3 separate regions of the Homo sapiens genome follow, and regions 1 and 2 are each linked to region 3. Evidence: fine-mapped expression QTL. A gene starts in region 3. Each other region holds a variant in brackets. All regions are shown on one strand. Distances are from middle to middle.

Evidence for each region. PIP is the estimated chance that this variant, and not a neighbour inherited with it, causes the effect.
Region 1: its variant is fine-mapped to the expression of LINC02878 in liver (GTEx, PIP 0.98).
Region 2: its variant is fine-mapped to the expression of LINC02878 in sun-exposed skin (GTEx, PIP above 0.99).

The regions. Positions count from the first base shown.
Region 1 is chr8:143,851,821-143,862,014 of GRCh38, forward strand. EPPK1 (epiplakin 1) reads right to left here. Exons shown (of 2, transcript NM_031308.4): 2 at 5,504-10,194. The coding sequence ends at 6,167. Among named protein-coding and RNA genes, the nearest start is that of NRBP2, 16 kb to the left of the region's middle. RefSeq lists an enhancer at 5,924-6,426. The variant G/A (reference allele first, on the strand shown) is at 5,680.
Region 2 is chr8:143,662,052-143,672,245 of GRCh38, forward strand. LOC105375799 (a long non-coding RNA gene) reads left to right here and starts at 1,067. Exons shown (of 4, transcript XR_928737.3): 1 at 1,067-2,317; 2 at 3,866-3,988; 3 at 5,794-5,866; 4 at 6,168-6,436. RefSeq lists enhancers at 6,995-7,495, 7,496-7,996. The variant G/A (reference allele first, on the strand shown) is at 4,902.
Region 3 is chr8:143,692,440-143,702,633 of GRCh38, forward strand. LINC02878 (long intergenic non-protein coding RNA 2878) reads left to right here and starts at 4,676. Exons shown (of 2, transcript NR_015445.1): 1 at 4,676-5,202; 2 at 5,500-5,974. ZNF707 (zinc finger protein 707) reads left to right here. Exons shown (of 6, transcript NM_001100598.2): 6 at 1,232-2,946. The coding sequence ends at 2,091. RefSeq lists an enhancer at 7,355-7,855.

The DNA of each region.
Region 1 (10,194 bases), 160 kb after region 3:
TTTTTTCTTTTTTCTTTTTTTTGAGACAGAGACTCTGTCGCCCAGTCTGGAGTGCAGTGGCGGGATCTCAGCTCACTGCAAGCTCCGCCTACCGGGTTCAAGTGATTCTCCTGCCTCAGCCTCCTGAGTAGCTGGGATTACAGGCACCTACCACACTCAGCTAATTTTTGTATTTTTAGTAGAGACAGGGATTCACCATGTTGGTCAGGTTGGTCTCGAACTCCTGACCTCATGATCCACCCGCCTCGGCCCCCCAAAGTGCTGGGATTACAGGCCTGAGCCACCGCGCCCAGCCATGATGACCATTTTACAAAAAGGGAAACTGAGGCACTGAGCCATGAAGTCACTTTCGGAAGAGCCCACAGTTATGAAAGAGCAGTGGTGGCACCAAGGGCAGGGGTTCCATCCCAGGACTTGCCATCTGGCCCTTTGTAGGAGCATCCTTTGTACTTAGAGATTGGAGAGAAATTTTGTCAAAAGATCCCAGGAGTCTCCAAATCTACCCTGGTTCTAAACGTGAGGCGCAAGTACCTGGAGCATGGTGACTGAGGGACTCCCCTGGAGTGTGTCTGCCTCCCGTCACCACCTGCCCCAGAGAGTGCCACGTGCGAGTCCCGCTGGGAGGCCCCTGCGTCCTGCTGCCCCGCGGCGCATGCTGCCCAGCGCCCCAGCCTCCTGCACCCAGGCCTCCTCCCAGTCTCCAGCCGGCTGCTGTCCATCCAGATGCCACTCCAGTGCAGCCAGTGGAGCAGGGCCAGGAGTGTAGGTGGCCTGACCATCCCCTTCCCCAGGGCTCTGAGAAAGGCTTCTCCTCCAGCAGTGTTTCTATCCGGGGGGCACAGGGCAGCAGTGACCAGCACAAGCTTGCGGGGCGAGGACACAGCTTGGAGTTGGGCGCTCGTGAGTTCCCACCCTTGCCTTGAGGACCTGGGCTTGTTACACCCCCAGGACTCCGGTTCTTCACCTGTAAAATCAGAAGAGCACTTCTGGAAACTTCTGGGCTGGCAGAGATGGAGCACAGCCACTACAGCTCCTCTCTCCCTTTGGACAGAATATAAAAAGCGACTCCTGGAGGACTGTGAAACGCTAACAGTAGCAGCTGGCTGGGGAGGAAACTCAAAACTTACCAACAACTGGCATGGAGGTTTACTGTTTTTGTTTTGTTTTGTTTTGTTTTTCCCCAGCTGTATGTGCGGCTTTGATCTGAGGATGGGGGTGTCTCACAACTGTGCCGTGGGTGCAAAGACCGACAACCCCAATACAAACCCGCCTTTCCCTCTGCAAATAAGAGTGCGTAGGAGAAACCCCCACTTCCCTCTCCTTTCTCTCCTAACCCTGTCCCGGCCTGCTCTTTGGTGGCATCACAGACCCCTGCGATCCTGCACGAGATTCCACCTGTATTGACAGAGGAGCTGGGCACAGGGCTCTGTGGTCCAGAGCGTGTGTGTGCAAGGTCCCTCTCTTATTTTCCCTGTCTTTTCTCTTGCTGTGTTGCCCCGAGCAGGGCCCAAGTCGTGTGAAATGGATGACAGCACAAGGAACTAAGACTCTGAGAAAAACCCTGGCTTTCTAAATGGACTCCTCCTAGGAGCCTGAGTGTATGGGAACCCCACAGAGCAGCGACCTGGAGGAGGGGCCTCCACGCTGAGCATGAAACAACACAAGCTCGGTGCTTGCCTGAGCTGAGCAGCACGTGTGGGGAACAGGCCGCACAGCAACAGCCTTGAGAATTGAGCCAACACGGATCCACTGCACACAGCGGCTGGGATACGGCTTGTGGCCTGACCCAGCCGGGATGAGTGCCCGCCAAAGTGAAAATGCCAACATTCTCAAGCGCGTTCTCGCAGGGCTCAGAGCCTCGCATCTGATTATTTAAAACATCCAGGATACAACCCCAAATTACCCAACATGCCAAGGACTGGAAATTGGATCCGGTCTCAGGGGAAAAGACAGACAGTTGCTGGCAGAACCCCAGGACTCAGATGCTGGAGGGACCAGGAAAAGATTTCACAGCAGCAATTCCAGCCCGATGCTCCCCGCGGCAAGAGTGGACACCCCAAGAATGAGTGAAAAGACAGACGTTCTCAGCAGGTGGAAATGGTAGAAGTGAAAAACATATTACCTGAAGTAAAAAATCACCTGAAGTAAAAAAGCTGGCCAGGCACAGTGGCTCATGCCTGTAACCCCAGCACTTTGGCAGGCCGAGGCGGGCAGATCGCTTGAGTCTAGGCGTTTGAGACCAGCCTGGGCAACATGGAGAAACCCTGTCTCTACTAAAAGTACAAAAATTAGCCAGGCATGGTGGCACACAGCTGTAGTCCCAGCTATTCAGGAGGCTGAGGCATGAGAATCACTTGAACCCAGGAGGCGGACTCCGCAGTGAGCTGAGATCACGCCCCACTGCACTCCAACCTGGGCAACAGAGTGAGACTCTGTCTCAAAGTAAAAAAAAAAAAAAGGCTTACTGAGTGTCTCAATAGCAAAAGGGGGATTACAGAGGAAGGAGTCAGTAAACTTACAAAGAGATCAATAGAAATTATCTAATCTGAAAAACAGGAGAAAAGATTTTTTAAAAAAATGAACAAAGCTTCAGAGAGCTGTGAAACAATATCAAAACATCTATCACTTTTGTATTTGAAGTTCCAGAAGGGGAATGGAAAGATATTAGTACATAAAACATTTATTTTGAAGAAATAATGGCAGAAAAGTTCTCTAATTTAGTGAAAGATATAAACTTATGAAAATCAAAAAGTTTGGCCAACTCCAGATGGGATAAACTCAAATCAAATATTTTATGTATTTATATGTGTAAAATTCCTCACCAGCAGACTTTATTTACTTTTTTTGAGAGGACACAGCTTGGAGTGGGCGCTCATGAGTTCCCACCCACGAGCCAAGGTGGACACTCACTCTGTTGCTCAGGCTGGAGTGCAATGGTGTGATCTTGGCTCACTGCAACCTCCACTTCTTGGGTTCGAGTGATTCTCCCACCTCATCCTCCCGTGATTATAAGCAACATCACGCCCAGCTAATTTTTGTATTTTTAGTAGAGACAGGGTCTTACCATGTTGGCCATACTGGTCTTGAACTCCTGACCTCAAGTGATCTGCCCGCCTTGGCCTCCCAAAGTGCTTCACCTGCCAACTTTAAAAGAAAATGCTAAAGAAAGGTATTTAGCCTGAAGGGAATGATACCAGAGGGAACCTGGAACTTCAGGAATGCAGAAAGAGCAATGGAAATGGTATATATTTAGAGAACCATAATATGCTGTTTTCACTTTTTAAATCATTAAAAATATCTGGTAGCTCACGCCTGTAACCCTAGCACTTTGGGAGGCTGAGGCGGGCGGATCACGAGGTCAGGAGATCGAGACCATCCTGGCTAACATGGTGAAACCCCGTGTCTACTAAAAATACAAAAAATTAGCCGGGCATGGTGGCAGGTGCCTGTAGTCCCAGCTACTCGGGAGGCTGAGGCAGGAGAATGGCGTGAACCCAGGAAGCTGAGCTTGCAGTGAGCTGAGATCGTGCCACTGCACTCCAGCCTGGGTGACAGAGCGAGACTCCGTCTCAAAAAAATACATCTGTATATCTATATATCTATATCTATATATCTATATCTATATATCTATATCTATATATCTATATCTATATATCTATTTATCTATATATCTATACATCTACATATCTATCTATATCTATATCTATGTATCTATTACTGCTGAGGCTGGGTGCGGTGGCTCACGCCTATAATCCCAGCACTTTGGGAGGCCAAGGTGGGCAGATTGCCTGAGCTCAGGAGTTTGAGACCAGCCTGGGAAACATGATGAAACACCACTGAGTAGAGACTAAAACACAAAAAAGCCGGGCATGGTGGTGCGCACCTGTAGTCCCAGCTGCTTGGCAAGCTGAGGCACGAAAATCGCTTGAACCTGGGAGGGAGGCGGAGGTTGCAATGAGCCAAGATTGCACCACTGCACTCCAGCCTGGGTGGCAGAGCAAGGCTCTATCTCCAAAAAGAAAAAAAAAATCTATACTGTTGAAAACAAAATTGCCACATTACCTGGTAGGATTTTCAATGCATGTAAATCTGATAACATGACAAAGATAGAATGGGGGGTGGGGGATGTGGAGGAAGAGACCACACCTCACATGAAGTGGCAGAGCGGAGACTCTAAGAAGACTGTCAAAAATCCTAAGTATACTGTAATCTCCAGGGCGACCAATAAAAAATTAGAAAACAATGGCCCAAAGCCAGTAAATTTAAATGGAACACTAAAAAATATTCCAATAATCCAAAAGAAGGTAGCTAAGGGAGGGGAAATGAACAAAAAACAGAGGAGGGAAAGGAAACAAAGAATAAGTCCAAACACATAATTACATAAAATGTAACGGTATAAATGTGCCAATTCAAACATAGAAATTGTGAAATTGGATAAAGATAACCCCACCCATTAATATGCTGCCTAAGGAGGCTCACTGCAAATACAATGACAAAGACAAGGTAAAGGTAAAAGGATAGAAAGACGTGGGTCCCATCACCACTAATCAGGCATGCTAATTCCTGCTTCAGCATTGCTGTAAAGTTCACAGTGAGAACTTCCGCAACACAGGCATCGGGCACACACACAGGACTTCCTCAAGAACAACAGGAAGAATGTGGTTGAAAGCACCCTGCTGATGCCTTTCCTCCACTTGTTTTTGAAGGTTCTCCCTGTCCCCCTTTTCAAGGCTAGTGCCCTGACCGCATCCCCCATCCTAGCCTTCATCATTGGTTGCACGTGGTCTGGATGAGAGCTATTAAGCGGATTGTGCCGAGTGCCTACTTTGGCATCTGTGAATGTTCGCACATGTGAACCCCACTACTGTTTCCATTTCCTTGTGGCCCCGTCCCCTCAAACCCACCTCCAGATGGGCCAGATGCTCCTGCAAAGGCCACACAGACCCTACCAGGGATTTTCTAGAGCCTGGGAGGCACATTTTGATGAGTTACCCTGGTGTCATTTCTGCCCTGAGGCCACTGGCTCTTCATCCAGAATGTCCAAGCCCTGTCCACTCTATCTGCCCTCGCTCCAGCCAGTCTAGCACAGGGAGTGTCCTCCACGGCGTCCATGCCCAGCCCGCAGGCCCCCAGGAGGCCAACCACACACAGCCACCAGGCAGAACACATGGATTCTTGCTGTGTTCTGCTACCATTGGAGACCAAGTGGCCCAGACGCCAAAGGCAACCCATGTGTGGAGTGAATGAAGGGGGGACTCGAAAGGGCTTGTTCTTTGTCACCTGCTCCAATTGCCACACTTCCATTAACAATGAAAGTTCTTGGTTCTCCCAGAAAACTTTGAGCAAGACTTAACTGCAACCTGTGTGCATAAAATTCTGAGATACGGCTCTAGGAACCCTGGATTTTGGACGGCTTGCTTCCCTTGTTTAATCTACTATCTGTATATTAAGGGCATAAAGATTAGTGATTGAACCTTCAAAAACCTGAAATCAAAAACAAGAGTTTCCTTCATATTTTACTTGTTCAGAATTTTTCCTAGTAAATTACTACAAAAAGTTCTTCTCCACAACAGACTCGCTCAGTCAACGCTAGTGAGGTCACACCTCTAAGGTGGAGCAGCAGCCAATGGAGAGAATAAAGCCCATGCTTTTGGCCAGCACAGCAGCCAGGGAAAGCCC[G/A]GGGAGGAGGACCGAAATAGAGCCAGGGCACTAAATAGTAGACACTGGCTGATGGAAAATGAGTTTGAAGATGAACGTGAATAGCACATCGTTAGGGAAATAACCGCATGTAATAAAAATTACACTGCAACAAGAGTACCCGATGGCATGATGGACTGAGAGTCTAAAGAGTGACATTCTGTAAAATGGAAGCAGTGAATCCAAAACAGACAGAAAAATGTTCTGAAAACGAAAAAGGAGAGAAAAGTAAAACCATATGACACATAGACGACCCAGAAAACACACCAAAAAACTTATGAAACACCTCGATGGACAAAGGAAAAGTTTCTGTCACATGACAACTTAAAACGTTTTCCACAGATAACGAATGGGTAAAACAACAAAATTAAAGAATGACAAAAAAAAAAAAAAAAAAAAAAACAACCCAGACACACAAGTATGCCTCCACTTCTCCAGAGTTGCAGAAAACTGCACGGAGGAAGCCCAGTCACTGTAGAGAGAGAGAAAGAAATAGGAGCCCCGTCTCAGGGTCCAGGGTGGCCCTCTGCAGAAGCTGCAGGTACGTGAGGTTCTCGTGCGTGTTGGGGTCGAAGAAGCCCTTGGTGTCGTCGCTGGGGTCGGCCAGGACGCGGTTCATCTCCTCGTCGAAGTAGCCGCGCCGGTAGGCCACGTCCACGGGCACGCGGTGGCTGTGCACGGGGTCGATGACGCCGCCCGTGGCGATCTGGGCCTCCAGCAGGCGGATGCCGTGCTCCCGGACGATGAGGTCCTTCTGCATGGCCTGGAAGAGGGAGATCTGCTGCCCGGTGTAGGGGTCGGTGTAGCCGGTGACGGCGCGCTCGGCCGACAGCAGCTTCTCCTGGATCTCGCCGCCCACCACGCCCGCGGCCACGGCCTCCTCCACCGACAGCCTCAGGTTGCGCACGGGGTCGATGACGAAGCCGGTGGCCGCCTGCGCCTCCAGCAGCACCAGGGCCGTGCCGGGCCGCAGCACGCCCTTCCACATGGCCTGGTAGATGCTCATCTTCTCCTGGCGGCCGGGCTGGTCCTTGGCGGGCACCAGGACGCCCGCGATGCAGCTGGTGCCCTCCAGGTAGCGCTTGACCGAGTCCATCTCCGTCACCTCCTGCAGCGTCTTAGTGCCCTGGGCCAGGTCCCGCAGGGTCTCGGGGCCCAGGATCCCGGACGTGTGCAGCTCGGAGGCGGACACCTGGCGCCTCAGGCCGCGGAAGGACACCTTGCTGAGCCGCTCCTCCGTCTCCTCGATGACCCGGGTGAGGACGGCGACGAGGTCGGGCAGGCCCAGGGCGCCGGCCGCGTGCTGGGCCAGGAGCTCGTCTCGGTGGGCCTCGCTCAGGTACGAGGAGAAGAGGACGTCCCACACGGAGACCGGCCGCCCCTGGAACTGCCCGCGCTGCACCTCCATGGTGGCATCACGCAGGGTCTGCTCCTGGCGGCGGGCGGCGGCGGCGGCCTCCTGGGTCTCGCCCTCCCCCTGGCCCTCTCGCTGGGAGCGCCCCGAGTCGCCGTCCCCTCGCCCGGCTGGCCCTGGCTCCCGCGGGCCGCGCCAGGCGTCCTGGAGCTGCGGCCGGGCCCCGGGGGCCTCCTCGGCCTCCTCGATGATGGCGGTCAGCCGGCGGGTCAGCGCGGGCAAGTCCAGGGTCCCCGAGCCAAACTCGGCCAGCAGCTCCTCCCGGGCGGCCCCGCTCACGTAGCCGGACGCCAGCACGTCCCACACGGGCACCGCGCGCCCCCGGAGGCGGCCCACCTTGACCTCCATGGTGGCCGCACGCAGGGCCTCCCGGGGGTCTGGGCGCGGGCTCCCGGCCTCGGCCTCGGCCTCGGCCCGGGCCTGGGCCTGGGCCTGGGCCAGCAGCGAGGTGAGGGTGGCGCCCAGCTCCTCCACGGTCAGCGTGCCCGCCCGGTATCTGCTCAGCAGGTCCTGGCGCCGGTCCTCGGACACCTCGCGGTAGAAGAGGAGCTCCCAGACGGAGACGCTCTGGCCCTGGAGGGCGCCCGAGCCTGGCATCACGCGGGCGTCGCGCAGGGCACAGCGCAGCTCCTCGCTCAGCTGGTGCACGGCGGAGCCCCGGCCTGCCAGCTGCAGCATGTAGAGCCCGGTGTCCGGGTCGGGCACGCAGCGGCGCAGCAGCTGCACGTACGTGAGGTTCTCGTGCGTGTTGGGGTCGAAGAAGCCCTTGGTGTCGTCGCTGGGGTGGGCCAGGACACGGTTCATCTCCTCGTCGAAGTAGCCGCGCCGGTAGGCCACGTCCACGGGCACGCGGTGGCTGTGCACGGGGTCGATGACGCCGCCCGTGGCGATCTGGGCCTCCAGCAGGCGGATGCCGTGCTCCCGGACGATGAGGTCCTTCTGCATGGCCTGGAAGAGGGAGATCTGCTGCCCGGTGTAGGGGTCGGTGTAGCCGGTGACGGCGCGCTCGGCCGACAGCAGCTTCTCCTGGATCTCGCCGCCCACCACGCCCGCGGCCACGGCCTCCTCCACCGACAGCCTCAGGTTGCGCACGGGGTCGATGACGAAGCCGGTGGCCGCCTGCGCCTCCAGCAGCACCAGGGCCGTGCCGGGCCGCAGCACGCCCTTCCACATGGCCTGGTAGATGCTCATCTTCTCCTGGTGGCCGGGCTGGTCCTTGGCGGGCACCAGGACGCCCGCGATGCAGCTGGTGCCCTCCAGGTAGCGCTTGACCGAGTCCATCTCCGTCACCTCCTGCAGCGTCTTAGTGCCCTGGGCCAGGTCCCGCAGGGTCTCGGGGCCCAGGATCCCGGACGTGTGCAGCTCGGAGGCGGACACCTGGCGCCTCAGGCCGCGGAAGGACACCTTGCTGAGCCGCTCCTCCGTCTCCTCGATGACCCGGGTGAGGACGGCGACGAGGTCGGGCAGGCCCAGGGCGCCGGCCGCGTGCTGGGCCAGGAGCTCGTCTCGGCGGGCCTCGCTCAGGTACGAGGAGAAGAGGACGTCCCACACGGAGACCGGCCGCCCCTGGAACTGCCCGCGCTGCACCTCCATGGTGGCATCACGCAGGGTCTGCTCCTGGCGGCGGGCGGCGGCGGTGGCGGCGGCGGCCTCCTGGGTCTCGCCCTCCCCCTGGCCCTCTCGCTGGGAGCGCCCCGAGTCGCCGTCCCCTCGCCCGGCTGGCCCTGGCTCCCGCGGGCCGCGCCAGGCGTCCTGGAGCTGCGGCCGGGCCCCGGGGGCCTCCTCGGCCTCCTCGATGATGGCGGTCAGCCGGCGGGTCAGCGCGGGCAAGTCCAGGGTCCCCGAGCCAAACTCGGCCAGCAGCTCCTCCCGGGCGGCCCTGCTCACGTAGCCGGACGCCAGCACGTCCCACACGGGCACCGCGCGCCCCCGGAGGCGGCCCACCTTGACCTCCATGGTGGCCGCACGCAGGGCCTCCCGGGGGTCTGGGCGCGGGCTCCCGGCCTCGGCCTCGGCCCGGGCCTGGGCCTGGGCCTGGGCCAGCAGCGAGGTGAGGGTGGCGCCCAGCTCCTCCACGGTCAGCGTGCCCGCCCGGTATCTGCTCAGCAGGTCCTGGCGCCGGTCCTCGGACACCTCGCGGTAGAAGAGGAGCTCCCAGACGGAGACGCTCTGGCCCTGGAGGGCGCCCGAGCCTGGCGTCACGCGGGCGTCGCGCAGGGCACAGCGCAGCTCCTCGCTCAGCTGGTGCACGGCGGAGCCCCGGCCTGCCAGCTGCAGCATGTAGAGCCCGGTGTCCGGGTCGGGCACGCAGCGGCGCAGCAGCTGCACGTACGTGAGGTTCTCGTGCGTGTTGGGGTCGAAGAAGCCCTTGGTGTCGTCGCTGGGGTCGGCCAGGACACGGTTCATCTCCTCGTCGAAGTAGCCGCGCCGGTAGGCCACGTCCACGGGCACGCGGTGGCTGTGCACGGGGTCGATGACGCCGCCCGTGGCGATCTGGGCCTCCAGCAGGCGGATGCCGTGCTCCCGGACGATGAGGTCCTTCTGCATGGCCTGGAAGAGGGAGATCTGCTGCCCGGTGTAGGGGTCGGTGTAGCCGGTGACGGCGCGCTCGGCCGACAGCAGCTTCTCCTGGATCTCGCCGCCCACCACGCCCGCGGCCACGGCCTCCTCCACCGACAGCCTCAGGTTGCGCACGGGGTCGATGACGAAGCCGGTGGCCGCCTGCGCCTCCAGCAGCACCAGGGCCGTGCCGGGCCGCAGCACGCCCTTCCACATGGCCTGGTAGATGCTCATCTTCTCCTGGCGGCCGGGCTGGTCCTTGGCGGGCACCAGGACGCCCGCGATGCAGCTGGTGCCCTCCAGGTAGCGCTTGACCGAGTCCATCTCCGTCACCTCCTGCAGCGTCTTAGTGCCCTGGGCCAGGTCCCGCAGGGTCTCGGGGCCCAGGATCCCGGACGTGTGCAGCTCGGAGGCGGACACCTGGCGCCTCAGGCCGCGGAAGGACACCTTGCTGAGCCGCTCCTCCGTCTCCTCGATGACCCGGGTGAGGACGGCGACGAGGTCGGGCAGGCCCAGGGCGCCGG
Region 2 (10,194 bases), 30 kb before region 3:
ACTGTGGCCCTGTTTGCTGGTGCCTTCCTGCCCCTTCGCTCGCCTTCGGGGCACTGTGGCCCTGTTTGCTGGTGCCTTCCTGCCCCTTCGCTCGCCTTCGGGGCACTGTGGCCCTGTTTGCTGGTGCCTTCCTGCTCCTTCTTCACTTGCCTTCGGGGCACTGTGGCCCTGTTTGCTGGTGCCTTCCTGCCCCTTCGCTCGCCTTCGGGGCACTGTGGCCCTGTTTGCTGGTGCCTTCCTGCCTCTTCGCTTGCCTTCGGGGCACTGTGGCCCTGTTTGCTGGTGCCTTCCTGCTCCTTCTTCACTTGCCTTCGGGGCACTGTGGCCCTGTTTGCTGGTGCCTTCCTGCCCCTTCGCTCGCCTTCGGGGCACTGTGGCCCTGTTTGCTGGTGCCTTCCTGCCCCTTCGCTCGCCTTCGGGGCACTGTGGCCCTGTTTGCTGGTGCCTTCCTGCCCCTTCGCTCGCTGTGCTGCAATGTGGGCATGTTCTGTGGGTTTGTCTTCAAGTCCATTGACCTTTTCTTTTGCCTTTGAGGTCTTTTTTGTTTGTTTATTTTGTTTTGTTTTTATTTCTAAAAGGTCACCTTAGGTTCAGAAGCCTTTGTGGTCTCATGTTCATTCCACCATTGAACTTTTCATTTCAGATGTAGGTTTTTCAGCTGTAGAAGTTCTACTGGATTCTTCTTTATACCTTTCATTCCTTTCCTCATTACCACGTTTTCCTTTAAACCTGTGAAATTACTCATTTGGCTTTTTAAAAGTTCTTATCTGCTAATTCCACCATCTTTATCATGTCTGGATGTTCTTCAGGGTTTTGTTTTGTTTTGTTTGAGATGGAGTCTCACTCTGTCACCCAGGCTGGAGTGCAGTGGCGCGATCTCAGCTCACTGCAACCTCTGCCTCTCAGGTTCAAGCGATTCTCCTGCCTCAGCCTCCCGAGTAGCTGGGACTACAAATGCACGCCACCACGCCCGGCTAATTTTTGTATTTTTAGTAGAGATGGGGTTTTGTCATGTTGACCAGGCTGGCCTCAAATTCCTGACCTCAAGTGATCTGCACACCCAGCCTCCCGAAGTGCTGGGATGACAGGCATGAGCCACCACACCCGGCCTGGATGTTCTCCAGCTGATGGATGTTTCTCTTGGCTATGGGTGACATTTTCACCTCTGTGTGTTTAGTAATTTTTTTGATAGATATTGTGAATGTTACATTGTTGAGGGTCTGAAATTTGTCTTCCTTTCAAAATTATTGAATTTTTTTGCAGGCAGCTTAATGACTGTAGATCAGCTTAGTCCTTTGAGGCTTGTTTCTGAGCTTGGCTGAGGCTGGTCTACAGCGGCCTTTACTCCAGGTTAGCCGTGCTCCTGGTAGGGCTGGACCCTTCGCAGTTCTCACTGAGTGCCGCCACTGGGCAGCAAGGCCCACCACTCTGGCTCATCACACTTTGAGCACCTCCCAGGCCTGCAAGCTATTTGGGGATTGTCTGCTGTCAGCTCCCCGTGGCTTGTGGCCTGGCCCCATGGTGTGTGCAGCTTAACGTTCATCCAAACACTCATGGCAGCACTGGGGACTTCCTCTTCATGGGTCCCAGTTTCTTTCTCGTACTGGACCCCATAAATGCGAGCCTTCTGTACCTCCCCAGAGTCCAACCTCTGCCTCCTCAACTTAGTGAGTTGATACCATGCCTGTGTTTCCCCTTCATATGCTGTATTCTAGAAAATGCCACCAGGCAGAGAGCTGGCATCATGGGAGGTGCCCCCCCCATCTCCATCCTCCTGGGCAGGTCACAGCACTGCACCCTCCAACATCTAACAGCAGCTGTTGCATGGATTTTGTCCAGCTTTCTAGTTTAGGGCAGGAGGGCAAGTCCAATACTTGTTAATCATGGCTGGAAGGGGAGGTCACTGTACCATTTTTTATGTAACCGGTAAATATAAATTGGTAAGGAGTTGACAATCCTATTAATTTGGAGTCAGCTACCTGGTGGCTATCAGTCTCATTCTCTCTCCTGCCCACCTTTCCTGCCTGTGTTCCTGGCGTTCTTTTTGAAAGCAGGCTGCAAGCAGTCACATCGTCACCCTGGGGCATTTCCCTGTGCTTTGTGCTGCCTGGAAGAGCTCATAGCCAAGGAAGGGTGAAGACGGCGCGCTGCGGTGTGCGGCTTCTAGGCTGTGGAGCTCTAGTGTTGCCTTTTGGGTTCAGGGACCCACTGGGCCACTGTGAGGTGGGCTGGAGCTGCATTTCACCGACTGCCTTGCTGCAGGAGCCCTGCTCTGACTGGAGGGCCACAGAGCACACCGGGCCCCCCCGTAAGCCAGGTACGAGACTACCCGTCTCCTGCAGCAGGGCTCGGGGACCTCCCCATGGAGCCACAGGCATGGGCTTGGGGAGAGGCCCAGTGGAGAATAGAGGGTGGCACGGGGACCTGGGCCATCCTTGTGCCTTCTGGACCTGCCCAAGCCCAATCTTGGACTCCACTTCCATCTCCCAGTAAACTCCTGACGGCCCCTTGGATGTGCGACTGGTAGCTCCGACAGCACCCAGTCACGATGGGCAGCGCCAGTCTCATAAACACCGTGGCCTCCACGGTCAGGGCCCGAACACTTGCCCGCACCACCTACCAGCTGGTGGAGTCCCCTGAACATGACGGGGCCCTGCGCCGGTGGCCTTGGGCCTGGGCTGCACATCCTGCACTGAGGCTCGTCATGGGCGCCACTCGTGTCTTTGCCACACATGTGAAGCCTGTGGGAACTTCACGGCCACATGACCCACGTGGCAGGACTGCCTGTCACCCAGCCTGGGCCTGCCTCAGCCCCTTCCCTTGCTCCAGACCCCACTCAGAGCCGACGGCTTTCCCTCTCCCCCGCCAAGGGCAGAACATATTGCCTTCAAGCCCAAAGAGGCATCGGGCCTGCCCCAGCACCCTACAGGCCACCGCACCCTGAGAACATTGCTCATGGGGCAGGTCTCTGAAGTGTACGGAGTCTGCCTCCTGCCCTCCACAGCGCCCGTGTTTTTCTGAGGCCATCAGCGCACCTGCTATCTCTGCATGAGTCCAGTGCCCATTAAGGCATCCACTGAATGGGCCAACCTTTGCTCGTGGACCATCCAGTGGGTCAGGCCTTTGGGCCATGTTGGGACGAGGCACCCCACTCGGTTCTGGAGCGACCGTACCTGTGTGCCGCTGTTGGCCCCGCGTGGGCAGGAACTGCTCCGATTCCCCTTCCAAACAGGTTTCGGAAATGATGTGTTTATCAGACCAGTAGCCAAAAACCACATGCACGTGGCCACATCAGTCTCTTCTGGAAAGACCATGTGGATGGCCACAAGCGTGCCTCAGCTACTACTGTTTAAGCCTGTGGTAGTCCACTGCTGTCCACCACGGTCATGCAGCTTCCGCAGGGGTTGGGTTTCCAGATTGTAAGGCGGGTGGGGACAGGCAGATGGGGACAAGGGGGACAAGAACAAGAGGGACAGGGACAAGGGAGTGTATGGGGACAAGGGGAATGGGGATGAGGGGGATGGAACAAGGCGGGTGGGGACAAGAGGGACAGGGATAAGGGGGATGGGGACAAGGAGGGCAGGGTAAAGGGGGATGTGAATTAAGGGGACAGGAACAAGGTGGATAAGGGGACGGGGACAAGAAGGATGAGGACAAGGGGGATGGGGATGAGAGGGATGGGGATAAGGTGGGCGGGGATGAGGGGGACAGAAACAAGGGGGATGGGGATGAGGTGGGTGGGGACAAGGGACAGGAAGAAGGTGGGTGGGGACGAGGGGCACAGGGACTAGGGGCACTGGGACGAGGAGCCTGGGGACGAGGGGGATGGGAGCAAGGCGAGTGCGGATCTTTTACGTCTTCACAGGTGGCCTTAACGCCTGCCATTCTCCACAGAGGGTAGAGTTGCAGGAGCTTCCACTTTGATTTTCCCACTACAAGACTCACTCTGTTGATCAAGGAACCAGTTGAGGTTTTGCCCAGTTGCCAGGTGTGTCCAAAGTGATTTTGTTCCTTTCACAGGACATTCTGCCTCCCTGACAGCGCGGGGGATGCTTCCATGGCCTCCACAAGTTATAAAATACTCCAACACCAGTAGTATGTTAGTTACACCAGGGTGCCATTAAAAATACTGCAGAGTAGGTTACTTAACAACAGAAATTAATTATTCTCTCACAGTTCCGGAAGCCAGAAGAGACTAAAGTGTCCCAGGTTGGGTTTTGCCGGAGGCTCCTCTCCTTGGCTTGCCGATGGCCGCCTTCTTGCTGTGTCCTTGTGTGGCCTCCCTCCCTCCTCCGTGTGCACACACATCCCATGCTGTATCCCTGCGTGGCCTCCCTCCCTCCGTGTGCACACACATCCCATCCTGTGTCCCTGCGTGCCCCTCCCTCCTCTGTGTGCACACACATCCCATGCTGTGTCCATGCGTGGCCTCCCTCTCTCCGTGTGCACACACATCCCATCCTGTGTCCCTGCGTGCCCCTCCCTCCTCTGTGTGCACACACATCCCATCCTGTGTCCCTGCGTGCCCCTCCCTCCTCCGTGTGCACACACATCCCATGCTGTATCCCTGCGTGCCCCTCCCTCCTCTGTGTGCACACACATCCCATCCTGTGTCCCCGCGTGGCCTCCCTCCTCTGTGTGCACACACATCCCATGCTGTGTCCATGCGTGGCCTCCCTCCCTCCGTGTGCACACACATCCCATCCTGTGTCCCTGCGTGCCCCTCCCTCCTCTGTGTGCACACACATCCCATGCTGTGTCCATGCGTGGCCTCCCTCCCTCCGTGTGCACACACATCCCATCCTGTGTCCCCGTGAGGCCTTCCTTCCCTCCATGTGCACACATATCCCATCCTGTGTCCCTACGTGGCCCTCCCTCCTCCGTGTGCATGTACATCCCAC[G/A]CTGTGTCCATGCGTGGCCCTCCCTCCTTCCTCCATGTGCACATACATCCCATGCTGTGTCCCCTCGAGGCCCTACCTCCCTCCATGTGCACACACATCCCATGCTGTGTCCCCGCAAGGCCCTCCCTCCCTCTGTGCAAACACACATCCCATGTCTCTCTGTGCATCCAAATTTCCTCCTCTTAGAAGGACCCTAGTCAGATCAGGTTAGGGCCCACCCAAAGGCCCCATTTTAACTTTACTACCTCTTTAGAGGCCCTATCTCCAAATCCAATCACATTCTCAGGTACCGGGCATTAGGTTCAGCATTTCAATTTGGGGGGAAACAAATCAACCCATAACAGGTGGATTTCCCAAAGCCTGCATTATTCAATTGTAATCAAACACACATTATTATGTATTTTCCCTGTAAAATAAGAGACAAGATCCAGGCTTGGTGGCTCAGGTCTATAATCCTGGCACTTTGGAAGGCTGAGGCAGGCAGATGCCCAGGAGTTTGACACCAGCCTGGCCAACATGGCAAAATCTCGTGTCCACAAAAAATACAAAAATTAGCCAGACGTGGCGGCATGCACCTGTTGTCTCAGCTACTCAAGCAGCTGAGGTGGGAGGATTTCTTGAGCCCAGGAGGATGAGGTTGCAGTGAGCCAAGATCGCACCACTGCTCTCCAGCCTGAATGACAGAGTGAGACCCTGTCAAAAAAAAAAAAAAGGCAAGGTTTTCTTCCAAGTGGGAAGAAAGATGGTGGATAGGATTTTTACGGAGTGTTGAAAGAGCTACTTGGAGAATCAGAAAGAAGATTAGTTGTTGGGAGGCACAGAGTGAGTACTGAGAAAACCAAGGGCCCAACTGAGGCTTGAAACTGCCAATTCTCCATTTACTGTCTTTCAGCTTCAAATACATACTTCATCGCCTGCTTGGTGAAAATGGAGCTGGGCCCTAAATTGTTTCTCCTTTAAAGCAGGTATGACGTTAAGCTTTGTAAGTAGAGGGCACTGGAGGGACCCTGCAGGAGGAAAGTGCTTCTCTTCCTGTTCTGCACTTTCTTCTGTTTTCTTCTTGTTCCTGCCATGTGGCTGCCAGCACACTCAGTGTTGCTCACCCCCAGCCAACTTCACTTGCAATGCCATGGGTGGATCCCCGTGAGTCTTGCAGATGCTCCACTGGTCAGCATCCAGCCTCAGCCTGCCCCAGAGAGGTGTTTCCTGCTTGCCAGTCCTGGCCAGGCTCCCTACCTGCCACCTTCAACCCCTCTACACCTGCAGGAGTGATTGCCCATTGACTGTGGACCAGCTCTGGCTACGGGAAAACCAGAGAACCTCTCCATCATCCATACTGCACCAAACAGCATCTCTGCAACCACACCTTTTCCAAGATTTGAGCCCCAGCCTTGGGGAGGAGGCCATCTTTCACATTTTCTCCTTCCTTGGGAACTCTCTGTCAGCCCAGAGTATTCTTTTGCATTATCTTTAGCCCTGTACAGATAATTCCATTATAGTAAATAATCCTTTATATTAAACGTTCCTTGCCCAAATGACTGTGCAGTTTCTGTCTGCTGATTGATTGCGCCCTGATGCAGAAAGGTAAAGTAACTTGACATGTTGCACAGCTGGCCCACACAATCACACAGCTGAGACTGCACAAGGACAGCTTCCTCTCAAATGTGTTGGAAATAAGAGCTTGGAGTCGCAAAGAAAATGAGCACTCAAGGCTGGGCGCGGTGGCTCACACCTGTAATCCCAGCACTTTGGGAGACCAAGGTGGGCAGATCACGAGGTCAGGAGATCTAGAGCATCCTGGCAAATATGGTGAGACCCCGTCTCTACTAAAAAAAATACAAAAAATTAGCCGGGCAAGATGGCGGGCACCTGTAGTCCCAGTTACTCGGGAGGCTGAGGCAGGAGAATGGCGTGAACCCAGGAGGCGGAGCTTGCAGTGACCTGAGATTGCACCACTGCACTCCAGCCTGGGCAACAGAGCAAGACTCTGTCTGAAAAAAAAAAAAAAGAAAAGAAAGAAAAAAAAAAAAAGAAAATGAGCACTCAAATACTAAAAACACACACAAAAAATTAGCCAGGGCTGGTGGTAGACACCTGTAATCCCAGCTACTCAGGAGGCTGAGGCAGGAGAATCGCTTGAACCTGGGAGGCAGAGGTTGCAGTGGGCCAAGACTGTGTTACTGCACTCCAGCCTGGGCAACAAGAACAAAACTCCATCTCAAAATACAAACAAAAAAAAACTTCCACTGGCTTTTTTTTGAGTGCTCACAAATTTGCCTTCTCAGCAAGGCAAATTTACTTCTGCAGAAGAGTGCCGCTCTCTCTTCTGGCCACTGGGAGAGCACACCGAACAAAGCAGGGCAGGGGTGTTTATCCCTAAAGCAGTCACGCCCTGCTACTGTGTCCAGTCCCCATTGGCTGGAGTCGCACCACACCATCTAAGCCGATCCCCATTGGCTACTTCAAATGGATCAGGGGCGGCTACAGTGGCCAAATAAGGAACAGATGTGGGTTTTACAGGTTGGGCTGCAGATTGGGAACAGATGTGGGTTTTACAGGTTGGGCTGCAGATTGGGAACAGATGTGGGTTTTACAGGTTGGGCTGCAGATTGGGAACAGATGTGGGTTTTACAGATTGGGCTGCAGATTGGGAACAGATGTGGGTTACAGATTGGGTTATAGATTGGGAGTGGCTGGAAGGTTGTTTGCTGTAAAGTGGAACCTTTGAAGAGGAACTCACTGTATCTAACAAATGTAAATCCAATTATGTCGAGTCTACTTCAAAACTTCCTGCCAGGTGTGGTGGCTCACACCTGTAATCCCAGGAAGTGGGCACGTTTTCCATGGCCAGAGCAGGAGGAGGAGAGGAGTGGGGAGGTGCCACATACTTTTTTTTTTTTAATTCTCCAATTTAAAACTTTTAGTTAAAAAGTAAACTTTAATGTTGAAAATGCAAACTTGGGGCAGGTAGAAAGATTACACACAAGGCTATCACTTCACATTTGGAGGGTTGCACAGCAGCCGGGCAAAGGCGCTCCTCACTTCCTAGACAGTCGGGGGACCCGGGCAGAGACGCTCCTCACTTCCCAGACAGTGGGGGTACCCGGGCAGAGGTGCCCCTCACTTCCCAGACGATGCCGAGGCTGGGGTGCCACATACTTTTAACAGACCAGATCTCAAGAGAACTCACTATCACCAGAAGGGCACCAAGTGGGAAATCCGCCCACATGATCCAATCACCTCCCACCAGACCCCACCTCCAGCATTGAGGATGACAGTTGACATGGGATTTGGGTGGGGACACAGACCCAAACCATATCACTCCTGAAGAGCTAGGACTACAGGAATGCTATACCTGGCTAATTGTTTTTCTTTTTTTCGTTTGTTTGTGTTTTTTTTTTTTTAGATGGAGTCTCACTCTGTTGCCAAGGCTGGAGTGCAGTGGTGTGATCTCAGCTGACTGCAACCTCCCAGGCTGGAATGCAGTGGTACAATCTTTGCTTACTGCAACCTCTGCCTCCCGTGTTCAAGAGATTCTCCTGTCTCAGTTTCCCGAGTAGCTGGGACTACAGGCGCCTGCCACCACGCCCAGCTAATTTTTTATTTTTAGTAGAGACAGGGTTTCACCATATTGGCCAGGCTGGTCTTGAACTCCTGTCCTCAGGTGATCCACCTGCCTCAGCCTCCCAAAGCGCTGGGATTACAGGAGTGAGCCACTGCGCCTGGCCACACCTGGCTAATTTTAAAAAAATTTCTTGTAGAAATGAAGTCTCACTATGTTGACCAGGCAAGTGTCAAACTAACTCCTGGCTTCAAATGATCCTCCTGCCTCAGTCTCCTAAAGCACTAGTATTAAAGCTGTGAGCCATCATGGTTAGCCTGTTTTTATATCTGGGAACTGTTGCTGTACAAAAATCAAATATGGGGTTGGAGTGGTTCACATCTATAATCCCAGCACTTCAGAAGGCTGAGGTGGGATGATTGCTTGAGTCTAGGAGTTTGATACCAGCCTGGACAACAGGAAGTCTAGGCTGCAGTGAGCTGTGTCGGGCTGCTGCACCCCAGCCTGGGCAACAGAGCAAGCCCTTGCCTCAAAAAAAGAAATCAAATATGAAGACTAAGAGTTTTAGGATTTGGTGTTAAGAGGTTTTGTTTTGCGTTGTTTTGAATTTTTGTGGGCACATAGTAGGCGTACGTATTTATGGGGTACATGTTTTTGTTTCTTTTTTTTTTTTTTTTGAGACAGAGTCTCACTCTGTCACCCAGGCCGGAGTGCAGTGGCGTGATTTCAGTCCACTGCAAGCTCCGCCTCTCAGGTTCAAGTGATTCTCCTGCCTCAGCCCCCGAGTAGCTGGGACTACAGACGAGCACCGCCACACTTGGCTAATTTTTGCATTTTTAGTACAGACGGGGTTTCATCATGTTGGCCAGGCTGGTCTCGAACTCCGGGCCTCAAGTGATCCACCTGCCTCAGCCTCCCATGGGGTATACGTTTTGATACAGGCGTGCAAAGTGTAATAGTCACATCATGGATAGTGGGGTATCCATCCCCTCAAGCATTTATCCTTTGCGTTACAAACAATCCGATTATACTCTGTTACTTTAAAATGTACAATTAAATTATTATTGAATATAGTCACCCTGTTGTGCTATCAAATACTAGGTCTTATTCTTTCTAATTTTTTTGTACCCATTAGTTAAGGGTTTTTTTTTTTTTGAGACAGAGTTTCACTCTTGTCACTCAGGCTGGAGTGCAGTGGTGAGATCTCGGCTCACTGCAACCTCTGCCTCCTGGGTTGAAGCGATTCTCCTGCCTCAGCCTCCTGAGTAGCTGTGATTACAGGTGCACGCCACCATGCCCGACGAATTTTTGTATTTTTAGTAGAGACAGGATTTCACCATGTTGGCCAGGGTGGTCTTGAACTCCTGACCTCAGGTGATCCACCCACCTCGGCCTCCTGAACTGCTGGGATTATGAGACTTACGGTTTACCAAAGGGGTGCGATGGGCCTTCTGTGTGGTGTCCGCATCCTCTCCTAGCTGGTTTCGGGAGAGTGCCGGCCCTCTGGGGCCTCTCTCCCTGGCTCGCCCTTTAGAAGGGGTTCACATAGTTAGAACCTTAGCAGTAAAGGTAACCTGTGCCTTGCGCAGGGCGGGGGACCTGGTGGGGACCCCAGAGGCAATGGTGTCAGCCCCGGTTATGGACTGGCGTCACTTGCGGCAGCCAGGTCCCACATGCACCCACCCTAATTTAATTAGACCAGGCAGCTAGGCAGGAACACGTTTATTTATT
Region 3 (10,194 bases):
GATCCCCGGGTGTGTGGAGCCCCCGGCTGGGGAGGTGTCGGATCCCCGGGTGTGTGGAGCCCCCGGCTGGGGAGGTGTCGGATCCCCGGGTGTGTGGAGCCCCCGGCTGGGGAGGTGTTGCATCCCCGGGTGTGTGGAGCCCCCGGCTGGGGAGGTGTCGGATCCCCGGGTGTGTGGAGCCCCCGGCTGGGGAGGTGTCGGATCCCCGGGTGTGTGGAGCCCCCGGCTGGGGAGGTGTCGCATCCCCGGGTGTGTGGAGCCCCCGGCTGGGGAGGTGTCGGATCCCCGGGTGTGTGGAGCCCCCGGCTGGGGAGGTGTCGCATCCCCGGGTGTGTGGAGCCCCCGGCTGGGGAGGTGTCGCATCCCCGGGTGTGTGGAGCCCCCGGCTGGGGAGGTGTCGCATCCCCGGGTGTGTGGAGCCCCCGGCTGGGGAGGTGTCGCATCCCCGGGTGTGTGGAGCCCCCGGCTGAAGGGAGCCATGGCTCTGAGGCTGAGTGGTTGAGAATCAGGTGGAGCTACCCGTCTTCTAGACGACATCCTAGCACCACCTCCACCCGCATGAGTGGGGCCTGCTGGCGTGGACAGGGTGAAAGGACATTCTCTTGGCCCAGTTGCTTCTGTTGGTTGGCAGGCATGTGTCGGCTCTCCCTCACGTCAGCAGTGCCGGGTGGCCTGCGTACCACCGGGGCTGGGGAAGCATCTGAGCTCATCTTGGCTTCCGCTGTTGATACCTGTGGCTCATCTGTGTTTCTTTGAACGAGTTTTCCTGATCACTCGTAACCATGTGGAATGAGCTGAGTCAATGGAAGCCAGTCCACGCACACAGCAGGAGGGTCCTCTGGGCTTTTTTTTTTTTTTTGAGACGGAGTCTCGCTCTGTCGCCCAGGCTGGACTGCGGACTGCAGTGGCGCAATCTCGGCTCACTGCAAGCTCCGCTTCCCGGGTTCACGCCATTCTCCTGCCTCAGCCTCCCGAGTAGCTGGGACCACAGGCGCCCGCCACTGCGCCCGGCTAATTTTTTGTATTTTTTTTTTTTTAGTAGAGACGGGGTTTCACCTTGTTAGCCAGGATGGTCTCGATCTCCTGACCTCATGATCCACCCGCCTCGGCCTCCCAAAGTGCTGGGATTACAGGCGTGAGCCACCGCGCCCGGCCTCCTCTGGGCTTTGCTGGAGGCACTGCCTGGCTGTGGGCCACTGGCTCTGTGTAAGGGTGTCTGTTCCTTCCACAGGGGCAAGGAAGTCTGCAGACCCCAAGAGACCTTGTGATCATCCAGCTTGGGCTCACAAGAAAACCCACGTGCGGCGAGAAAGAGCCAGGGAAGGAAGCAGCTTTAGGAAGGGCTTCAGGCTGGACACGGATGACGGGCAGCTTCCCAGAGCTGCTCCAGAAAGGACAGACGCCAAGCCCACGGCTTTCCCGTGTCAGGTGCTCACGCAGCGTTGTGGGCGGCGGCCGGGCCGCAGAGAGCGCCGGAAGCAGCGCGCAGTAGAGCTGTCATTCATCTGCGGCACGTGCGGGAAGGCGCTCAGCTGCCACAGCCGGCTGCTCGCTCACCAGACGGTGCACACGGGAACCAAGGCCTTCGAGTGCCCCGAGTGCGGCCAGACCTTCCGGTGGGCTTCAAACCTGCAGCGCCACCAGAAGAACCACACGCGCGAGAAGCCCTTCTGCTGCGAGGCCTGCGGGCAGGCGTTCAGCCTGAAGGACCGCCTGGCTCAGCACCGCAAGGTCCACACCGAGCACAGGCCCTACTCGTGTGGCGACTGTGGGAAAGCCTTCAAGCAGAAGTCCAACCTTCTCAGACACCAGCTGGTGCACACCGGGGAGCGGCCGTTCTACTGCGCGGACTGCGGCAAAGCCTTCCGGACCAAGGAGAACCTCAGCCACCACCAGAGGGTCCACAGCGGGGAGAAGCCCTACACCTGTGCCGAGTGCGGCAAGTCCTTCCGGTGGCCCAAGGGCTTCAGCATCCACCGGAGGCTGCACCTGACGAAGAGGTTCTACGAGTGCGGCCACTGTGGGAAAGGCTTCCGTCACCTGGGGTTCTTCACGCGGCATCAGAGGACTCACAGGCACGGGGAGGTGTAGGGGCGCCCGAAGAGTGGGGTGCTGCGCCTCTGCGGGAGTACTGGGTCCTGAGGGAGAGCTGCAGTGAGAAGTTGCTCTTCAGCCTGGAAAATCAACCTGAATTCAGAGAAGCCTTCTTAGTCCTCAGAGCTCCCCAGTCCCCCGAGAAGTTTACTGGGAAAACTGCCAGGTGGGAGAAGCAGAGCCATGGGTACGCCGGAGATGGCGGGGGCTCTGGAGATGGCGGGGGCTGCGCCCCGGCGCCGGGCATCCTGGGGATGTGCTGAGAGTGTGCGCGACCCCGGAGCCACGTGCCAGGCCGGGCTCAGAGGCGGAGAAGCCTGCCTGGTGCCCACAGCCGTCTGGCTCAGGGACTCCACCCTGGCCCCGAGTCGCCGTCTGCTGGGCCTTTCCTTCCTGGCTCTGCACCCCATGCTGGCTGCCCGGTCTGGCTTCCCTTCTTGTCTCTGTCTTGGGCGAGGCAGCTGTGAGCATTGCACAGAGGCAAAGACCCTCCTGCAGCCTCTGCGCTGGGCCGTAGAAACAAGAGCCTTTGTAATACTGAACCTCATTCAAGGATTAGGAGTGGTGGTTAGGTCAGGGCCACCCCCAGTGCTGCAGGAACGGCCTCCACCCAGCTCTGTTGGTCAGAGCCTGGGTCATGCACCTGGAGTTGGGAGATCAAGTTGGGTCTCAGGGCAGTGAGGTGGCCATATCCACCACATCGCATTTCGTGGGGGAAGAGGTGACCTCTTTGTTTTAAACTTAAGGTGTCTGCTTATCCAGCCAGAAATAAAAATCTGCCAGTGGTGTTCCCAAGGGAAGACCCCCGTGGGAATGGGTCGGGACACTGCCGTGTTTCAGGTTAGCCAATTATTTTTGCTTTTGCCTGTTTTTCTTTAAGAATTGCAGCCAGGCCAGGCGTGGTGGCTCACGCCTGAAATCCCAGCTACTCGGGAGGCTGAGGCAGGAGAATCGTTTGAATCCGGGAGGTGGAGGTTGTGGTGAGCCAAGGTTGCGCCATTGCACTCCAGCCTGGGCAGTAAGAGTGAAACTCCGTCTCAAAAAAAAAATTCCAGCCAACAGATGCATATGTAATGTTGGAATCAGAAACGAGTTTACAAGAAATAGGGGGATGAGGAGAAGGTTGAACACACCGAGAGGAAGCCCTGAGCCAGATCCGGCTGGAGATGCCACCAGACGGCGACGTTTCTGTGGGAAGACGGGCACGCAGAAAGGCCGAGGGGGCTGTGTGTGACCCTGGTAGGAGCAAACCGAGTGCGAAGTCACTTTTGAGACAATCATGGAAATGTGGGCACGGGCCGTGAGTCGGGTGGGTAGGCCGTGAGTCGGGTGGATGGACTGAGTCGGGTGGGTGGGCCGTGAGTCGGGTGGATGGACTGAGTCGGGTGGGTGGGCCGTGAGTCGGGTGGATGGACTGAGTCGGGTGGGTGGGCCGTGAGTCGGGTGGATGGACTGAGTCGGGTGGGTGGGCCGTGAGTCGGGTGGATGGACTGAGTCGGGTGGGTGGGCCGTGAGTCGGGTGGATGGACTGAGTCGGGTGGGTGGGCCGTGAGTCGGGTGGATGGACTGAGTCGGGTGGGTGGGCCGTGAGTCGGGTGGATGGACTGAGTCGTGTGGGTGGCCGTGAGTCGGGTGGGTGGGCTGTGAGTCGGGTGGGTGGCCGTGAGTTGCGTGGTGGGCCGTGAGTTGCGTGGGTGGGCCGTGAGTCGGGTGGGTGGGCCGTGAGTCGGGTGGGGGTGCGGAATTGGCTGCTAGCGGTGATGGTGACACAGGGTTACGGAGGAATCCTCACTCAGATGCATTTGGACGTCTTTGTGGGGAAATGACGTGGCGCCTGGGATGTACTTTACGATTCTAATAAAGAGGAGAAAGACACAACAGTATTGGCTGAATGTTGACAGCTGTTGAAGCCGGGAGGTTGGTGTGCTTAAAAGTTCCCCAAATCTTTTATTTGCAGCATGAGTATGAGTTTCTTCGTGCTCACGGAAGATTGTAGAGAGCAGCTGTCGGTCATGGAGTCACAGGGCTGCCTTACCAGGACACCACCGGCAGCCCCACAGACAACACAGGTTTATTCTCTCCAGCTCTGCAGGCTGGAAGTCCGAGGTAGAGGTGCCAACAGGGTCCGTTTCCGGCGAGCGCCTCCTGGTTCAGAGGCATCCTCATGTCAGGAGGGGCTTTGGTGTCACCTTTTCCTTGTGAGGGCCCGGATCCCATGACCCCTATCACCCCATCGAAGCCAAATCACCTCCCAGAGACCTCCTCATACCATCACGTCGGGCCTAGGGCTTCCACATGGGAATTTCAGAGTGACCATTCAGCCCGTAGCAGAAGCTCCTCTGGGTCTGTCCTGGCCCACAGACCCTGTGTAGGAAAAGCACTTGCCCCTGCGGGGCAGGCCCTGGCAGAGCCCGGTGAGGCAGTGAGGGCCCTGCAGGATAAGTGGAAATCTCCCCAGGGGGGATATGGGGGTGCCTTTCTCTTACAGAGTCCAGGCTGGTAAAAGCGCATGTGTGTTTCGTGTCTGGTTTGTCCCCTGCCCAGCGGGCGCCGTTGGAAGGGCCTTCAGGTGCTTGAGCACAGGTGGGGACGGAGCAGCTGGTGTCTCGGCAGTAGATGCGGCGGATCATAAGGACTTGGGTTTTGAGCGCCCTGCAGGAAGCCACTGGCCGCGTCCAGGGTCACCTGTGCCTGGTCGTTAGTCCCTCACAATGCTGTCACTTTGTGACGCTCTTGTGCAGGATTAAATGTGAACAGCAGAGACGTGGGTGATGCGCTGCCTCGTCAGATGATGGTCAGTTGTCCAAGCGGGCTGCCTTGCTCTTGGTGGCCTCATCATCCAGGGCTCACACACTGGATGGTTGGGCCACAGTCGCGGTACCCCCCGGGCTGCAGGCTTTCCACCCTGCTTAGCAGGGCTCCAGGGCTCCGGGTAGAGCAGGGGGTCCCTCCCTTGGCACTTCCCCAGGGAGGAGCACGACCGTGCTCAGCTGCGGTCAGGCTGCTGCTCTTAGTTGTCTTTCCTTCTAACACTCAGGCTTCCCTTCCTGCCTCCTGGGTCGCTGAAGAAGGTCAGGTCCACAGAAAAGGCCTGGGGAGAGAATGGTGGTGAGGAGCCCATGGGGGTGTGAGGGGCCGGGAGGCTCTGCATCTTGCCCTGTTGGCCTCCTCACCACCCAGGCGGGGGTGGGGTGACAGAAGGGGCTCACAGCAGGTGTCCCGTAAGGAGCATCTTCCTTCCTGGGGCCAGCAGCCGTCACTCCCTGTGAGCCTGTAGAGCCGAGTTTTCTCTGCATTTATCTTGGGCAGAGAATGCATGAAGCTACTTCGCGGCCAGAATGGGTGCACAGCAGGGTCCGTTGACAGCCATGCCTGTGACCTAGCCTTCCACCCCTCTGTCTCCAGGGGACACTTGCCTGGCCTTTGTGTTAGCGCTCAGCACACATGTGTCCAGTGTAAAGTCCACCAAGATTAGCAGGGCATGGTAGCTGCCGCCTGTAATCCCAGCTTCTCAGGAGTCTGAGGCAGGAGAATTGCTTGAACCTGGGAGGCGGAGGTTGTAGTGAGCCAAGATCGTGCCACTGCACTCCAGCCTGGGCGACAGAGTGAGACTCCATCTCAAAAAAAAAAAAGTCCGTCGAGAGAGCAGGTGGCGGATGCAGCTGAGAGCTCCAGGAATGGGAGGGCCACGTGGTAGCCACTGGCAGCCTTGACTGAAAGATGAAGGAGTCCATGGTGCTAGGAGGAGGAGTTGCATCCCAGCAGGCTCAGCTCCTGGAGCTGCCTCTCTGCACTCTGAAGGGAGGCCCAGTGGCTGCAATATTCTTCTTTGGGAAGTACAATGCCAAGTAAATAAAGATATTTGGGGTCATTCTAGTTACAACGTATCATAAACTCTACTCACTGTTGTTCTGGGTGTTCATGGGGTCCGCCGTGCGTACCAGTCTTACAGGTCCTCAAACCCATTGGGACCCTTCAAACGAAGAGTGTGCGTGTGGAGTTGGCAGAACCTGACCCGGGCCAGGGTGGAGGGACAGCTGCGTCACTGAGTGCATGTCCAGCCCTAATAGCTCGCTTCGTTGTGTTTGTATCTGTGACCTCTTGGGAGCTAAATCACAGGCCCACCAAACGAAACGTTTTGGGGAATGTGAAATGGGTGGGTTTTGAGCTGGTCCCCAGTGTGAGCTTAATGTTGGAGCCATATTGGATTTTAAAACTTCAGAGGCTCCTTTTCCCGGGGCCAACCATCCTATGTAAAATTCGAGGGCCGATGGTGGAAGCCTGGAGTCCGGTTACAGTGGTAACTCCATGAGGGGAGACCAGCTGTCATGCACCTGAGCACCCAGAATCACTCACACTCCCCACTCCTCCCCTCCCCACACGTGCACACTTAGGAAGTGTGGCAGCCTGACTGCAGGAGAGCCATGATACCACACACAATCCAAACAAAGGCAGAGCAGCCCCGCCTTAGGACAGGTGAGCCTGTGGCCTGCACACCCATTGCCACAGCTGGAGGGCTGTGTCCTTTCCACAGAGGGGTCGGCCAGCCTCGTCTTCTGATCACACTACTTCAAAGGTGCTCAGTCCACTCACCCCACCTCCAGCTGCAGTGTCTCCACCGGGGACCACGACCACCATGTCCATGTTCAAGCAATTCTCTGCCTCAGCCTCCCAAGTAGCTGGGATTACAGGCACCCGCCACCACGCCCAGCTGATTTTTGTGTTTTCAGTAGAGACGGGGTTTCACCATCTTGGCCAGGCTGGTCTTGAACTCCTGACCTCGTGATCCACCCGTCTCGGCCTCCCAAAGTGCTGGAATTACAGGGATGAGCCACTGTGCCCAGCCACCTCAGGGCCTTTTTGCAACTCCGGATGTGGGAGATGACAAAACCACCATGCAAAGAGGGGAAAGGGCGGAAACAATTTATTTGAAAAGGAATAAGGAAAGTGAGTGACTAGTTAAAATTTCAGTATTTGGACACTGCTGAACAGATGTCGGGTGGATCCAGCAGCCGGGGAGCTGTGGTGGGCTGTACGGCGGCCGCCGAGCAGTAGGACACGGTCTCCATCGCCCATCACCTTCCTTGGGGTTTACTCAGCAACTCGGCTGGCCGCGGCCCTGGAGCCGCATGCCTGAGCATCTAAGGATTTCCTAAAGGGGCCTGAGGTCTGTCACCTGGACACGTGGCGAGAGACAGGGAGTGACCCTCTCAGATGACTTACAGGTTGGGAGAGGAGAGATGTCTGAAGGGAAATACACCAAGTCTTTTGTGGCAACTCAACGAAACTGATGGCTTCTGCCTTGTTCTTCAGGGCAGGTCCTCCTGGCCAAATCTGTTCAGCGTGCAGATGCAGACCTAGTCCTACTCTCTTCCTGATTCCATCTCTCCCTTTAATCCCATAGATAAAATCCAGCCCTAGGCTGGGCGCGGTGGCTCACGCCTGTAATCCCAGCACTTTGGGAGGCTGAGGCAAGCGGATCACTTGAGGTCAGGAGCTTGAGACCAGCCTAGCAAACATGGTAAAACCCCATCTCTACTAAAAATACAAAAGTTAGCCAGGGGTGGTGGTGGACGCCTGTTGTCCCAGCTACTCGGGAGGCTGAAAATGCACTTCTCCAATCCCCCTTCGGCTGCCCTTCCTGGTAGGTGCTGAGTGTTGCTGGCCACAGCCCTCAGGGGCCGCCACCTTTGCTTTGACCTTCGCTGACGCAGATGTCTGTTCCAAGGTTATGCCCCTTCCTGGGGCCACATCCAGGAACTAGTAGATGGAGGGGTGCTAACGCCTGGCCCCGTGGCTCCTCTCTCAAGGACCATCCAGCTGCAGACCCCCACACAAGCCCTGCCACGCCTGCATGGAACTCGCCTCTCTCTGCACAAGCTCCCCACAGCAAACCCCCTGCTGAGTGGCCCGGGGTTGGCCCTGGGTGTCTGGCCCCACAGCACAGCGGATCAGACCTTCCACTTGGGGCCCAGAACACCCAGGCTCACGTCCTCTTCCTTGCTCGAGTACTGCCCTGTCCTGTCCATACACAGCCAAATCCCCTCGCCGTGGATCCCCGGGGTTCTGATTGGTCTGATGTGAAGAGAGATGTTCTCTTGCCAGAAGGGGTGGAATGCAGTTGGGGTTCCCTTGGCCAATACATCAGGCAACTTTTGTCTACAAAAGAGAGCTAAGTGCACGTTATTTTAGTGAAGTTTATTCCGAGTTACAATTCACACAGGCCTTCTGCTCTCCAGGAAATACAGCACAAAGGGTAAAGCCCCCTTACTGCCCCTACTCCTGTGGAATGAGCTTTCCTGATGGTGGAGTGTGTCCACTGTGAAAGCTGCCGCTACCAACATGGAGTCGGGGTAGCCCTGAAGTCCTCAGATACAGAGGCCTGTGACAGGACGCAGCCCAAGACACTCCTGCACGGAGACGGTTCCAGGACCCACAGGGCGCCCTCAGGGTTGCCTACCCCAGACGGACGCTTGCCCAGCAGTGACTGTCTCAGCCCACGCACTAATTCCAGCTCCTGTAACAGACTCCTGTAAAAGACCCTTGGCTTTGAAAACAGCTTATGTGGGCTTCTTTTTTGTTCTTGTTTTTGTTGTTGTTGTTTTTGAGATGGAGTCTCGCTCTGTCTCCCAGGCTGGAGTGCAGTGGTGCAATCTCGGCTCACTGCAACTTCCGCCTCCTGAGTTCAAGCGATTCTCTTGCCCCAGCCTCCCAAGTACCTGGGATTACGGGCGCAAGCCACCACACCCAGCTAATTTTTGTATTTTTAGTAGTGACTGGGTTTCTCCATGTTGGCCAGGCTGGTCTTGAACTCCTGACCTCAGGTGATCCACCCGCCTCGGCCTCCCAAAGTGCTAGGATTACAGGCGTGAGCCACTGCGCCTGGCCCTTTTTGTTTTTAAGATTCCCCTTTTCCCCAACTCCCCTGGATACACCTATAGCCTGCCAAATACCCCGAATTGCAATTCTCTGCAATTCTCAAATCAACTCGCTTATTTGGAGAGCTTGTCTCTTGAGTTTCTTTTTAGGTTGACACAACAAATACTTGTCCAACACCTGTGTAGGCACAAACCTGCGTGTGTGTGCTCCTCATCGTGTGGAGTCGTCCTGTGCGCCCCGCATGTGCTTCTTCATTCCGTCTGTGTGCGCTCTTTCCAGCAACCGCATGCTGTCCCATGAATGTGTCCTGTGGAAGGACACAGCCTGCAATCCCAGCGTTTTGGTGCTGTGAATTCCGCCGCAGTGAATGTCTTTGCTCTTACATCTGTGTGCACACGTGCCTGTATCCCCGCTCTTGCGTCTGTGTGCACCTGGGCCTTGCCAGGTTCCTGCAGCTGCTGTAACAGGACACCCCAGACCAGGTGGCTTCAGACAACAGAAATGAATTCTCTCAGTTCTGGGGGCCTGATGTCCACAATCCAGGCATCAGCAGGGCTGTGCTCCCTCTGAAACCTGTAGGGGAAGGATCCTCCCTTGCTTCTTCCAGTTTTGAGTGTTGCCAGCAGTTCCTGGCAGTTCTTGGCATGTAGAAAATCACTCCAATCTCTGCCTCTGTTGGCACACGCGTTCTCCCTGTGTCTCTGTCTTCATGTGACCAGCTTCTCATAAGGACACCAGTTACATTGGATTAGGGCCTACCCGCATGACCCCAGCTAATGACATCTGCAACAACCTCATCTCCAAATACAGTCATGTTCTGAGGTACTGGGGGTTAGGGCTTGAACGTAAATTTTTCAGGGGACTCTGCAACCCACAACAAAGGTACACAATGGATTCCTAGAGGTCGATCTGCTGAGTCAAAGAGCAGGGCTGTTTTAGATTTAATAGCAGCAGCCAGCCAACAAAATCAGGAGCGTTCCACACTCCCAGGCTCTGCAATGACACAGGTGCCCTCCACAGCCCCTTACTCTGGGTCTTCCTCATCCTGGCACTGGCTTGACTTGCCCCTCCCCGTTTCCTGGGCAGCATGGCTGTCTTCAGACACGCATCGGCATTTGTACTTCTTTGGTGTTCGAGTCGTTTCCTGTGTCTTCTGGTTGGTTGTTGGGTCTTTGGTGTTCAAGTCGTTCGCCTGTGTCTTCTGGTTGGTTGTTGGGTCTT